2 separate regions of the Homo sapiens genome follow, and region 1 is linked to region 2. The links come from fine-mapping of genetic effects on gene expression. Tissue or cell type: whole blood. Region 2 holds a variant in brackets; the other region holds the start of a gene. All regions are shown on one strand. Distances are between the middles of the regions.

The links. PIP is the estimated chance that this variant, and not a neighbour inherited with it, causes the effect.
Region 1: SRA1 starts here. The variant in region 2 is fine-mapped to the expression of SRA1 in whole blood (INTERVAL, PIP above 0.99).

Annotation. Positions count from the first base shown.
Region 1 is chr5:140,556,383-140,558,882 of GRCh38, reverse strand. SRA1 (steroid receptor RNA activator 1) reads left to right here and starts at 1,410. Exons shown (of 5, transcript NM_001035235.4): 1 at 1,410-1,455; 2 at 1,611-1,736. The coding sequence starts at 1,431. It overlaps APBB3 (amyloid beta precursor protein binding family B member 3), which reads left to right. Exons shown (of 13, transcript NM_133173.3): 13 at 62-615. The coding sequence ends at 298. RefSeq lists enhancers at 981-1,040, 1,131-1,490, 1,356-2,177.
Region 2 is chr5:140,596,931-140,599,690 of GRCh38, reverse strand. It overlaps a transcript of TMCO6 not described here. Among named protein-coding and RNA genes, the nearest start is that of SLC35A4, 33 kb to the right of the region's middle. The variant C/T (reference allele first, on the strand shown) is at 1,240.

The DNA.
Region 1 (2,500 bases), 41 kb after region 2:
AAGCTTTCAGGGAGTCTAGAGGCAGAAAGTAGCTGGATCCTCACATTCCCCTTCTCCCTAGGTTCAGTACCAGAAGTGTCTTGTGGCCTCTGCAGCTCGAGGCAAGGCCTGGGGTGCCCAGGCCCGTGCCCGCCTGCGGCTCAAGCGGACCAGCTCCATGGATTCCCCAGGAGGTCCCCTGCCCCTCCCCCTGCTCAAAGGAGGGGTTGGCGGTGCAGGGGCAACCCCTCGAAAGCGGGGTGTCTTCTCTTTTCTTGATGCCTTCCGGCTGAAACCCTCTCTGCTCCATATGCCCTAAACTTATCTGGGAAGGCTGGGGAAGTAGGCTCTGGGTCCATGCCTAACTCTGTACCGTTTTATTCCTCAAGGCCTATAGCCTGTCACTCCTTGAAGCCTTCTCTGCCTGTCCCTCCGATCCTTGTCCACCGTCTATTTATTGCCCAATTTATTGTTTATACGGATGACTGGGAGGCACTGCACCACAACGTAGGACCCTGGCTCCCCTTTCCTTGGGTCCTTGTGTTCCTTGCCCCTGTCCAACCCTGGACAGTTGGCTCTACCTCAGTAACACTTTATAGCAAAATCAGTGCAAATAAAAATCCCTCAGTGACCTCACTGGATGTGAGTATATTGGGCCTGGGACAGGGCTGGGGGCTAACACCCTGTGTGAGATGAGTGTCTTTGTGTCTGTGCTTGATGTTGGTGGCTCTCTGTAGTCACATGACAGCATGGGTGTGATGGAGATCTGACTTCATTCAACAAACATATTTTCTAAGGAGTTCCCTGTGCCAGGCACTAAGCTGGGCACTGGGAATGTAATAAAATAGTCAAGGTCCCACCTTCTAAGACTGTCCGACAGGGAAACGAACAAGAGTCAAATAAGGCAGAAGATGTGATGTAATACACCTACGAAATCTCAGAGGGTTGTAGGGTCGTGGGAGCTCAAGTGAGACACTTAACCTGGCCTGAGACATTCCAGAAGGCCTCCTGAAGAACTGACATCTGAACTGAGAACTGAAGGAAGATGAGTACTAGTGAGGCTACCGGACGTGAATGTGGAGATTGTGCAGGGCAATGCAAGAGGAGGCTGTAGAAGTCAACCTGGCTAGATCACAGCGGGGTGTATGTGGGGCAGGAGCTTCTTTGTTTGAATTTGCTCCTGAGAGGATGAGGCCTCCTAGAGCACTGGCTCCTGGACAGCAACCTCCTTTGGTGCCTTGTGACCAGGGCCCTGATGGTTCATTAGATGGAGCCTTCGAGTCTTAGGGAGTTGCCGCAGGGTCCCCACAGCGGCTCCCGACGGTTGTGAACCAGCATCCATCCTCCACGGATTCCGGCAACCCGCCTGGCCCTGGACGTGTCTCAACTGGCCCGCGTGAGGGGCCGCCCCGGAAATGACGCGCTGCCCCGCTGGCCAAGCGGAAGTGGAGATGGCGGAGCTGTACGTGAAGCCGGGTGAGCGCAGCCGGCGGGCTAGGGCACTAGGTTGTCGCCCCGGCCTAGGCTGGGGGCGGTTGCGGCGCTTAGTATGGACCCTCTGTCTCCCCCAGCCCCAGTATAAGCTAACAGTGGAGTTCCGGGCTCGCTTCACACATCCCTCGCCTCCGCAGGCAACAAGGAACGCGGCTGGAACGACCCGCCGCAGTTCTCATACGGGCTGCAGACCCAGGCCGGCGGACCCAGGCGCTCGCTGCTTACCAAGAGGGTCGCCGCACCCCAGGATGGATCCCCCAGAGGTGCGTGGGGCCCCTGTGCTCGGAGACAGACGGAGAATGGGGGGGGGGGGGTGTAAGGCATAAGCCTGTTTGGAAGGCTTTTTTCTCTCCCCGAGGGCTCCTTAAGGAGAGAAGTTTTGGGGCTCCAGTAAGGGTCTCAGAGCAGGTGCTTTTCCGAGCCCCTTCTCTGCTGCTCAGGTTAATAAATGGTGTATTGATTTAAAAAGACTATTTTTTCATCCTAGATGATCTTATCCAGACCTGTGGCTTTTAATATAGTTTTAATCCTGAAGTTATTTTTCTTTGTTAACCTATACCTCTTGCCAGAACCGTATAGTGGCATATTCATTTGTCCATTCTGTCTTCACTTAGGTATATGATAATCGTCAGACTTCACAGTTTTTCATTCATTTAATCACTGTTATTTACTGAGCACTTCTATAAGTCAGGCACTGTTTGAGGGCGAACTAGACAGCAGTGAGAAAAAAAAAAAAAAGATCTCTGCTTTCAGGAAGTCCACGTTGCAGCACTGGAGATGGGCTGAAAGATGAAATAGTGGTGAGGGTGCTACAGAAAATAAGCGGTGATGTAATATGACTGGGTAACGAGGTGTCTGAGGGGCTGACATTTAAGCCACACAAAGATCATGTACAAAAGCATTCCAAGCAAAAGAAACAGCTGCAAAAGGAATAAGTTTGGCCAATTCAGAGACTGATGAAATACAGAGTGGCTGGCTACAGCATAGTGGGCTTTGTAAAGCAGGATGAGGAATTTGTATTTTAATC
Region 2 (2,760 bases):
GACCTCAGGTGATCCGCCCTCTTCGGCCTCCCAAAGTGCTGGGATTATAGGCGTGAGCCACAGCACCTGGCTGGAGCTGTCAGATTCTACTGCTACCTGGAGAGTGTCCTATAAACAGCAAAGAGCTTCTTGGTTTATAATCGCAGTTCCAAGGTGAATGTGCAGCATCTTGTTTGGAAGGCTAAGAAGGTAAAAACAACTTACCTTATAGGCTATTGCATTCTGTTTGCCACTACATTTGGGTTTTTACTGATTCATGGGTGGTGCATACTGACGTGATCATATGGTCAGGCTGAAGAGCAATAGAAAACTGCCCTCTTAAAGGGATCCCCTAAGAAAATCACTATGGAAATTTGAGGGATAGATTAAAGTAGGACATATCAATGCCCAATAGAAGAATCACTTTCCTGGATTGGAAGGTGATTGGCACCAGTGAGTGAATTTCCCAGTGTGCTCACTTGAGGTGGCCACCTGGGTCCATGGAATGAGTGGACCTAAGAATACTGTGGCAATGTAGAGATCTAGACATATTCCTCTTGCACCCTTTGAAGCACAAAATGCCAACAAGAACTGTTTTGTCTGCCAGCAAGAGAGACAGAGAATGCAGGTGGCCCTGGGGCACATTCCCCCGTTGGAAGGCCTCACACATAGCTGGTAGATAGATTACATTGAACAAATGCTGGCAGCCCTGGGGGCTACAAATGGGGTCTGACAGGAATAGACACTTACTTTGGTTTTTTGGTTTTTTTGTTTTTGAGATGGAGTCTTGGTCTGTCACCCAGGCTGGAGTGCAGTGGTGTGATCTCCGCTCACTGCTACCTCCTCCTCCTGGGTTCAAGTGATTCTCCTGTCTCAGCCTCCCGAGTAGCTGGGATTACAGTCGCCTGCCACCACACCTGACTAATTCTTTTGTAGTTTTAATAGAGACTGGGTTTCACCATGTTGACCAGGCTGGTCTCAAAATTTGACCTCAGGTGATCCATCTGCCTTGGCCTCCCAAAGTGCTGGGATTACGGGCGTAAGCCACTGCACCCGGCCAGGAATAGACACTTACTTTGGACTGGGCTTTGCACACCTAGTGGTAGATACGAATGCTGAAAATACTATTAAATTATTGGAACAAAAGATACTGTACTAATTTGGACCACCAAGTTACATTTCTTCAAACCAAGAGTCACACTTTACAGCCCATGATGTCCAACAGTGGACAAAGAGATATCACATCAAACAGACATACCA[C/T]GTTGCATTGTCATCCTCAGAGTAGCAGTTTAATAGGGAATTGGAATGAGCACTTGAAACATTCATTGTCTAAAATGAGGTGAGTGAGGGTGCAGTGGCTCATGCCTATAATCCCAGCACTTTGGGAGGACGAGGCGGGAGGATCACTTTAGCGCAAGAGTTCAAAGCTGCAGTGAGATATCATGCCACTGCACTCCAGCCTGGGCAACAAAACAAGAACCTGTCTCTAAAAAAAAAAAACCAAATAAAATAAGAAAATAAAATTTAAAAATCAAGTAAAATGGGGGAGGGGATAAAGTTATGAAGCACTTGTTTAAATGTTTTCATGAGGGTATGCTCACATGCACCATGAGGGGGCCAAGGGAGAATCCCCATTGGAGAGATTCCTCCATTTTTCTAGGAAAATCTAGGGGAGAGGGGTTGAGGGAGGGTGTTGGTATGACTATATGATTCTTGCCCACATCACCTCAACTTTCTTTTTTGCCATCTGATGCAGAGGTTCCAGGACTAGAGATACATCTGCAGGTGCCAGAAGCATAGATAATTCCTAGGCAAGACATTGTAACTATACCTTTAAATCTTTATTTCAGCATTTCTAAGGACCCTATAGGTTAAGTTGTGCCCTCAACCCATCTGGCAAAATTTGAGTTGACAGTAAATGCTGCTGTATCATCCAGTGGCTAAGATAGTCCATTAGTCCTGTAGCTATATAGCCCTAATCTATATAAATTGGAGTGGACTGAAGGGGAGGCACTTGTTAAACTACTATTGTTGCCAGCAATCTGGACTAGCACAGTGGCCTCTCCTAATGTCCCTTCCAAAGGTAGAAAAGTTTGGGTATAAATGAGAGAATGAAGAATAATAGCTGAGGGTATGGAATGAATAACCCAATTAGGGAAATCCAATATTATGCTAACACTTTGAAAGAGACCCAGAGCAAGGGATGATATGGTTATACCAGAGGTCTGAAAGGATGAAGCCATATTTTGCTGAGACCACACCTGCTTTTGGAATTTAACAAGATTGAATGGAAGCCTGCACACCTGGGTGGCCTTTCTGTGGGAGACATTTTGGTCATAGTATATGATAATGAACTGATTACTCTTATATTTCATATTACATCTACCTCAATTTGATATAATACAGCCATTATTGGCAAGATTATAATACTGTACTGAAACTGATAGCCAAATGTATTGCAAAATTGGATTTAAGACCTCCTATCCCTACCCCACACTGACTTCTCCAAATATTAGGCATATTCATGTTGGTACTATTGCTGTATCTGTTATATAAATGCTACACCAAATGTGGATGATCAGACAGGTATGATCCTTTTGCTGAAAAGGCTAGGGGGTGGCCTGTGATATAATAAAGAATATGTCTGGTCTTCAACCCCAGTTCCTGGCACAGAGCTTCAAAAATCTTTAGAATTATAGGAGCCTGTTATGCTAATGAGTTGTGCAAGGCAGGTTTACTCTGCACTGGTTACCAACTTATCTGAGGCTGGTGAGACACAAC